Homo sapiens: one gene and its partner. The protein of the gene in region 2 purifies or fractionates together with the protein of the main gene of each other region. This does not show direct contact. Each region holds a gene or a part of one and is shown on either strand. Other genes may lie near its edges. The genes, in order: ACTR3B and MSC.

What was found.
Region 1: the proteins of MSC (region 2) and ACTR3B purify together in Homo sapiens (affinity purification with mass spectrometry; one large-scale study listed by BioGRID and IntAct). This does not show direct contact.

The regions. Positions count from the first base shown.
Region 1 is NC_000007.14:152,758,106-152,762,676, forward strand, and holds the start of ACTR3B (actin-related protein 3B), read left to right. Parts: upstream 1-1,646; 5' UTR 1,647-1,777; coding exon 1,778-1,821; exon of another isoform or gene 1,822-1,947; intron 1,948-4,571. UniProt on the Homo sapiens protein: Plays a role in the organization of the actin cytoskeleton.
Region 2 is NC_000008.11:71,841,368-71,845,829, forward strand, and holds MSC (musculin), read right to left. Parts: upstream 3,046-4,462; 5' UTR 2,812-3,045; coding exon 2,278-2,811; exon of another isoform or gene 1,756-2,277; intron 1,381-1,755; coding exon 1,294-1,380; 3' UTR 193-1,293; downstream 1-192. UniProt on the Homo sapiens protein: Transcription repressor capable of inhibiting the transactivation capability of TCF3/E47. May play a role in regulating antigen-dependent B-cell differentiation.

The DNA of each region.
Region 1 (4,571 bases), on a different chromosome or scaffold from region 2:
TCTCTTCAGTTCTCCTGAACATTCTCTAGGTCTGGGCCTTAATGGGTACTTATGAGTTAAAAAAAAGAAATGATGATGGGTTACCTAGGAGTGGTCAACGTATCTATTACTTCTAGGTAAAAAACACAATGTTTTAAGTACCTGTAAAAACAACATGTCTTGGCTGGGCGTGGTGGCTCATGCCTGTAATCCCAGTACTTTGGGAGGCTGAGGCAGGCAGATCACGAGGTCAGGAGCTCAAGACCAGTCTGGCCAGCATGATGAAACCCTGTCTCTACTAAAAATACAAAAAATTAACCGGGCATGGTAGTGGGTGCCTGTAATCCCAGCTACTTGGGAGGCTGAGGCAGGAGAATTGCTTGAACCTGGGAGGCGGAGTTGCAGTGAGCCGAGATTGCGCCACTGCACTCCAGCCTGGGCGACAGAGTGAGACTCATCTCAAAAAACAAAACAAAACAAAAAAATACATGTTTCCAGAAAGCTCCTAAAAAATTAGTATCAAGAATTTACGATCGGGCAAGAAGCAGGAAGCAAGTGGCAAGTGGGACTCTCAGTACCTTTATAATATAGTAGGTGGTGTTTGCCTTCTTTGGTTTCAGTAAGAACTTTTGGGCGATCATCCCATCTTCGACACTTGAAAACATTTTCCAGGAGTGATCTTGGTGTGGTTTACTCAGTCTAAGGCCATTCATTCCTTAAGGCTGGCCAAGCATTTGTTTTGCAGATTTTTCTTCTTAGAAAAATTTAGGCCGTGTTAGGTATAATAATTCCAACTAATTTTTTTTGTTGTTTTTTTGAGACAGACTCTCGCCCTGTTGTCCAGGCTGGAGTGCAATGGCGCGATCTTGGCTCACTGCAACCTCCGCCTCCCAGGTTCAAGCGATTCTCCTGCCTCAGCCTCCGGAGCAGCTGGGATTACAGGCACCCGCCACCACGCCCGGCTAATTTTTGTATTTTCAGTAGAGAAGGGGTTTCACCATGTTGGCCAGGCTGGTCTGGAACTCCTGACCTTGTGATCCACCCTCAGCCTCCCAAAGTGCTGGGATTACAGGCGTGAGCCACCGCGCCCGGCCAATTCCAACTAATTTTTTTTTTTTTTTTTATTATATGGGGAAGGTTACTCAGTCATTCAACAAACATTTGGGCACTTCCACAGGTACACCAAATACTGTGCTAAGCACCTGCTGCTCATCAATAGTGATTAAGACAGACTCAAGCCCTATCCTAGAAGATTTGATAGTCCAGTAGGGGAGGCAGACAACAAATACATAAATATAAAAATATAAACACTTTGCTTTAAGGGTTAGGAATGAAACCAACAGATTGTTGAGACAGAGGATACAGTACCGGTAGGGGACATAGTCAGGGTGATCAGGAACAACTTCCCTCGCAAGGTGACATTCGAGCGAAGACTTACAGGAGGAGAAAGGCGCCAGGCCTCGGAAATGGGGTCACGTTCATGTAAGTCAGTTAAAAATAAACCCCAATCTCTCCAGCAGCAAGGTTGGACGTATGGGGCCAAGAAGCCTCGCTGCCAGCACTAAAGATGGCGCGCCGGAGTGGGGGTGGGGGTGTTGGGGGAGGCGGGGCGTGCGCGCGTTCTGATTGGCCGACCGGGGAGTGACGTCACGTGTCGGCCGCCGAGCATCCGGGCTCCCGGCAGCGGCGCTGCGGCGGCTCGCGGGAGACGCTGCGCGCGGGGCTAGCGGGCGGCGGAGCGGACGGCGACGGGGCGCTCTCGGGCTGCCGGCGGGGCCGAGCGCCGCGCGTCCCGAGCATGGCAGGCTCCCTGCCTCCCTGCGTGGTGGACTGTGGCACCGGGTAAGAGCAGCTCGGCGCCCACCCCCGCTCCTCCGCGGCCCCGCTCCCGGCCCCTGGCGTCCACCTCGCCTGGAGGTCGAGCTGCGTCCGTCGCCCCGGGCTTGAGCCCCGCGATCACCTGGGCAGGTGGGGCGCCGGCCGCCGCTTCCCTCCAAGCCTTGCCTTGACGTCGTAAAACCCCCTCTTCCCTGCCGGGAAGGGCCACAAGAGGAAAAGCACGGAGGGTAGGGACGCGGTGCCCACTCTGAGCGAGCCCGGCGCTCCTCGCCTCCCCCGCCCACGTGGCCGGGCCCCTGGACCCGCAGCCCGGCTCCGGCCGTCGCCGGGGTGGACACCCTGAGGGACACCGGGAGCGCGGGATCTCCCCTCCTAGGAATATTCGCCAGCGTGAGGCACAGATCATCACTGCAGATCCTTTAACGTCACTCATCTCCTAGTGAACGGTGTCCCTGCCTTCCAGCGTTCTCAGCACTGGCCCTCGTTCTGTCCCCGCGTGTGCGTGTCATTCCTCCTGGCTGAGGATTCTTTACCACCTACTTGTGGAGAGAATAGCATCGATCTCCCAACTTGATACCATTTTTACTGCCCTCCCTGCGCTTTTCCAGTATGAAATGGCACACTCAGGCCAAGCTGTCCCTTTGGTTTGCATAGATTTGCCTTTTCGCTGAAAAATGATGTGTTTAAAAAGACTCCATTTTGAAAAATACCCTAAATTTGGGAGAGCATGTTTGTGGAATTGTGGTAGAGGTTTTTGTTTTTAACTTTTTGAGTGTGACCACTTCTTTCGTTGCCGTTAAGCTATTAAAAAGAGATCTTAGGAAATGCCCTGAAGTATCGGTGACCCAAGTTAGCTGGTTGTAGTAAGGTGATTGCTGAATCCATGTAGCTGGTAGTTTGGGAATACAAGCTTGCCTGCCTGCGTTATGGGTGTAGTGCTTAGTAAAATAGCCTGGAAGTAAATTTGGTCTCTTAGCGATTTTTTTCAAGAAGGGATTTTAATCATTTTTGCCACAAAATGTAACATGGCATGTTCACCTTACCCTTGATTCTTTTCTATAGAAAAATGCACTTGGTTTGGTTTCCTTGACAACCTTGTGGGGGTGCCTTCTTTAGTTTGCTACAGTCCATCTCCTACTGTTAGTTCCTTCCTTTTGCTGCTGAAGCGACCAGAAGTGGTTGTGGACTGGAAAAATCCTCTTTGCTTGTGTGAATTCTTTTTGAAATACACGTCATATCAAGCTTTGTAGCTCTTTATTTTAGAACTTGCTTTTCTACCTAAAACACAAGCCAAAATCAGCGTTGTCGATACTACAGCTCCCCTCCCTCAATTATTGACACCCTTAACTCATGCCCTCCCCCAATGGGTTCACCTCAGGTCCCCTCAGGTCTGGTTGTGTCAAGAGTGAAACCAGTGGGTGAAAGTATTTTTCATTTCCACATTTGCATGTGAGATTTTTGCTTTGTAGTTTTAGTCTTGCAGAACTATTAAAATATAAAGGAATTCTTGGTAGTAGCAATAAAATAATGCTCACAGAGTTGTCATACCTTTAAGATTAGTAAGTCGTGGACCTTACTCATCTTTCTTGCTATAAATACCTAAAATGTCGTGCTCAGTTTTGACCTTTTGAGGTAAGTGATTAATGTAACTTGGCTAACTTGGAGATTCAACTTCTATAGATCATTGTTTTGTGGCCCAAAGTCATGCTTCAGAAGTTGGTGTCAAGACTTAGAAACGGTGGCAGGGAATCTCCATATGAATTCCCCATATCGAGTGTATGGCCAGAAGGAGCCTGAAAGAGCCCGAATTTACCAACTTGAGCACATCAGTAGTTCTTACATTTCCCAGAGAGCCAAAATGATTTTTGGATTTAGTTTTGCCTCAAAATAGGACAAAAAGTGGTAAAATTCAGATAAAAATAACCAAGCCAAAGGAAAAGAACGGACCTAGGAAGTCACCCTGAGCTTTAGCCCAGTGGCTGCTGAAGTTGGTCCGCACATTCGACCTTAGTCTTCCTGTCTGACAACATCATAAGAGTCATGGTTATGTAATTCCTGTCATCAGAAATCAAGAGAAATACCTGTTTCTTGGGTGAAAAAAGCCTTTTTTTGTAGTACTAAATTGTAAAAGCATTGAGCTATACATAGTGGGCACTAATGATTTATTGGACAGTGTGATAAACAGTATTTTTTACAAATAAATTTCATCCCAGTATCCTTGAATCCTCCTCAGGTAAACCCCGAGACTACCTGAGTAAGCAGTGATGTGCTGGAGGCCAGGATAATATGGACAAAGGGATCTGCTGAGTCCAAAAATAAAGCTTCATCTATTTAAAGGGATGACTAGGCTGCATAGTTTTCAGAGAATATTTCACAACTCCGGTCTCACTTCTCTGAGCCAAACTTTTCAAATGAAGTCTTTTGCATTTTTCAACTTTTTTTGAAATAATTTCAAATCTACTGAAAGCTGGAAGAGAACAAAAAACTACTGTATACTCTTCTTCCAGTTTTACCAACTGTTAACATTTGCTTTGTCACTCTCTGTATGTCCATACATATTATTATTACTTTCCTGCACTGTTTGAGAGTAAGTTGCAGAGATCATACCCTTTTATATCAAAATACTTGAATGCGTACTTTCTGAGGACACATTTTCCCTTCTAGAATCACATTCCAATCATCAAAATCAGAAAATTTAACATACATACAGTAGTATCCTATATACAGTATGGATTCATGTCTTTTATGGAATG
Region 2 (4,462 bases):
AGCAGCAGAATCATAGAGATTAATAAAGAATGACGTTTGGAAATGGAGTGATCCAAAAGTGATCGCCACCATTCCTCCCGCAATGACCCACCGCCCTGACCAGAGGAGATCAGCCCTTAAAAGTTAACTTCTACAGCCAAACCCTCTTAGTAAAGGGCAACAAAGACCACATCCTGACACCTCCAAGGGGCACACGGTTTTTACAGCGCGTTTTATTATTCATAAAAAAATAAATTTATTTACATATGTTATTTCCTGTGGTAGTGCAGCCTCGGGGCAAGGGCGCGTTCCCTATCGCAGGATCACTTGCTATGGTAAGCCGCCCACCCTGCGCGCTCCTCCGCGCGGGGAAGAACCTGCGCGGCAGGACGTGGTGTTGGAGTTGGGGCGCCCGGAGCGTGGAGTGGGGAGACCTGATGCAGAGAGTCTGGAGTCGGAGCTGGGGGTGCTGCAGGTAGGAGCAGGAGCGGGGCGGAGAGGGAGGCCCGAAGAAGACCCCACACAGGTTGGCGCAGCGGGGCTTGGGGAGGCTTCAGCCCAGAAGTGGAGAGGGTTGACAGACGCCTGCCTGATTAGAAAAAGCCGGGAGCTTGGGAAGGAGACGGGATTGAAGAAGCCACCCGGCAGGGAGGCCGAACGGCCCAGAGCTCTCCGGGTAAAACCCGCCTGCGGTGATCTGGGAAGTGTGTCTCCACCTAGCCCTGCGAGCAGCGGCCTTCCTCCCGCCCGTTAGAAGGGCGCTGTGCTGGAGTACGAACCCGGCCCAGAGAAGCCACTCGCCCTTCTTTGTCACTTAAAACCCTGTCCCGACGCGGATCTCACGTCTAGACCTCTGTCTTTAAAGCGGATGTAGAGCGCGTTCTAACCGTTCCCTAACCATTGTGTCACCGCGAAAGGCCGGGGCTGTGTGGAACCGTCCCGCACGTGTGCGATGAATCTGGCTCCGCTGAGAACGGATCCGTGGGCTGTCTGGCGCGGGCTGGGGCAGCAGCCGAGAGTTAGTCTACAGAGCTAGGGCCCGAGGGTGGACCTGCGTCCGCGTCTCGTCACGAAAGGAAGCTCTTTTTGGAGAGGCAAAACGTGGTCGCCCAGATCCGGCGCAGCTGTAGCCGTGGGCGCTGTGCAGTGACAGCCACACCCGCCACCTGTCACGATCACAGTTCCAGGGAAAGGGGAAGGGTCAAGGAGAATCCAGCGGAAACTTCTTCCCATCTCACGAGCTCTCCCTTCTCTCCGTGGCCCCCAAACACTCGCATTTAACGAATAATCCCATCAAGTGAGTTCCAGTCCGATTTAAGCGGTGGTTCCACATAGTCTGTTGGCTGCGGAAACTTCTTTGGTGTCAGAGTCCGGTCTTCCCGAGACCACGAATGGCCATGTCTGTAAATCAAAAAGAACGTGAGATATTAGAGAGAAACGATTGTCTCAAACCGAAACAGCTCTCCTACGCGAACCCCAGATATTCCTGACTTGGAGTAGCTAAGATTTTATCAGCATTCTGGGAATTTGCATGTCCTCTCTCTGAACTAAGATTTTCATTTTACTGGAGGTTGATAATCCGAGACTTGCCATATCCGTTCACGCTTCTTCCTGGACTTTGCCCGCAGGATAATTTGGTGAAACTCATCTGACTTTGAGGTTCTGTCGTTTAGTTCCCTTCCCCAACACACACACACACACACGCACACACACACACACACACACACACACACACAGTCATCCACTCCAAGCTCCAAGTAGGAACTGGGCTTGGACAGGATTTTTCCCAAGCCGGGAGAGCTGGCAGATCAGAGAGGGACTTTCCAGATAAATCCCATCTGGGGAAACGTTACTATCTTCCACAAGCAATTTTTCTAAAAATGCAAATGCTCTTTTATAGAGCTCGGCCTTCCCTCCTTTAAGAAAGGGCTTGCCGATTCAAACCTGCCCGACTCAGCTGGATTAAGTTGGGCAAGGGAGATTTGCCGTCAGTCTGCAACCTGGTGGCAGATGGAGATGGAACCAAGATTTACCCTGGAAGTAGGATATTAGTCAATGGCTGTCACTGGGGTACAATGTTCAGAACGATGCAAACAGACACGGAGGGTTGATTCTTCTTCAGGGAAATGGCTGGCCACTCCCTTGATTTGGGAGAAACTAAACTGGCCTTCTCGTTCCCAGTCCCAGAACCTCCACCCCTTTCGAATTCTTCCCAACGGGCTGACCCTGCCCGGCGCCCAGGAGCGCCCTGGGTATCTCCTGGCTGCTCTCCCGAATCCTTGCGCGCCGCGCCCCTACCAGGTTCACTGGGTGCACGTAGCCGTTCTCATAGCGGTCCTCCTGCAACAGCTGCCGCAGGTGAGCGATGTAACTGGAAGCCAGCCGGAGCGTGTCCAGCTTGGAGAGCTTAGTGTCGGGGGGCACCCAGGGCAGGCTGGTCTTGAGCCTGGAGAAGGCTTTGCTCAGCACGCGCATCCGGGCACGCTCACGGGCGTTGGCCGCGTTCCGCTGCGACTGCTTGCACTCTGCGGCTGAGCCCTTGGCCGGGAGGGGCTTCTTGCCACCACCGCCCGCGCTACCACCTGCGCCGCCGCCCCCAGCCACACGGGGCCGCTTCCTCTTGCAGCCTTCCGCGCTGCCGGCTGTGCCCAGAGCGCAGCGCTCCTCCTCGCCGTCGGGGTCCTCCTCCTCTGCCGACGAGTTGTCACTGGGCGAGGCGTAGCTGCGCTCTACGCCGCGGAGGGGCGGCCTCTTGGAGGCGGGGACCGGGTACTCCCGCTGCAGCCCCCGAAGCTCCATCTCCTCCGGATCACTCACCGAGCCCGTGGACATCCCGTTGTCCCCCTTGCCCACACGCGTCCTCTTTCCTCCCCCCTGGCCAGTCTCGCTGTCTCCGCCTTCCGCTCCCTGGCGGAGGCGGAGGCCAGAGAGCGCTCCAAGGAAGACTAAAAACCCAGGCCGGGAAGCGCGGGGTGAGAAAGCGAGGTGGGTGGCGAGAGCGTGAGCGCCCCTCTGCTGACCCCGGGGAGCGTGGACTACGAGTTGGCGCCCAAGTCCAGAATCCGCGCGCACCGCGGTAAGCTGCGCCTTTTGAAAAGGCTATCTGTACTCCTTGGAACAAACCACCCCGGGCAAAGAAGAGGGGGTTGTAAAGGGGGCCAAGAGGTGGGGCAGGGGCGTGGAAGGGGTGGGGACCGCTTTTCTGCATGCCGAAGAGCGGTTGGTGGAGGCGGGGGAAGGGGACGTCTCTGCAGAGCCGAGATTTGGGCTCTGAAGCCCGACGGCCCTTCAACATGTCTGCGCAGGATAAGTGAGCTTTCGGGGAGTGAAGGGGCACATCTTGTTCCTACCGACGGTGCTTCTACCCCCAGGTAATCTTAGCAGTGGCAAAGATTACCAGACACTTAGAAACGACGGGATTCCGACCTCTGCTTGCCTGCCAGTCTTTCCAGTAGAACTCAGTTTTCAAGTTAACCATTCATGATGTATGATTGTCTACCCAAGCCTTGCTGGACAAGAGAAAAAGCAGAACAGGCAAACAACATCCAACAATGCACAAGTTACCTCTCATTTTCCTCCTCCTTTTCTTATAATATACCTTCATGGTTTACAAAAATGGTTACAATGGTTCGTTGCCTTTTCAAATAACATCTGTAACTTAATGATATTATCTCCAATTTGCAGAACTTGAAGCTGAGCCGCCTAGATAGACGTTAAGTAAAAGACCCAAACTTATTAGGCTAAGTAGAAAAAAAGATTCAAAATCCGCGTTTTGAAATTCTGGCCCGTCGGTATTCTAGTCAGCTCCGTGCCTCCGGGTCACACATCACTGGATGTTGTAGCTGGTATTTTCCACTATCTTGAGAGTTCCATGCGTGATGTGATTTTGTTTTAATACCACAATGCGTGTGTTGGAGGATCCGGCCCTAAAGCTTTGCATTATAATGTAGGGAATCCTTGCTATTGTATTTAATAGATTGTGTATTGAAGAGCGAGCTCCTGGAAGCAGAATGCTAAGTTAGCACAATCGTCCATTCAAAGTAAAAACGACAAAGGAGCACCCTGAATGATCATGTTCCATTCCAAACAAGACTAAAACATCCTGCTCTTCCACACAAGAAAACACAACAATTTTGCAGTCTCATTATTTCCTAACTCGAAGGTCATCGCAGTTCCTGGTCAGGGGATAAGTACGTCTGTGGATACGGGCCCCAGTGGTCAGAGACTGAGTGCCCGCTGTGTGCCCGTCACTGTACTCGCGGCTTGTGAGCAGCTCACTGAGTAATAAAACCCGTATGAGTTTGGCATATGGTTACCCCATTTTACAATGATGAAACTGAGTCGTCACACAGGCTTAGGTGTTCACTTGTTCTTTTCCTGAAAGTCCACAGGCTCCCAAGCTGAGCAAGGTGCAAGGGGACCTATGTGGAGTCAGTCCAGGACAGAGCTGGCAGAGATAGCTGGGCCAGCCTGGCTCCCGCCA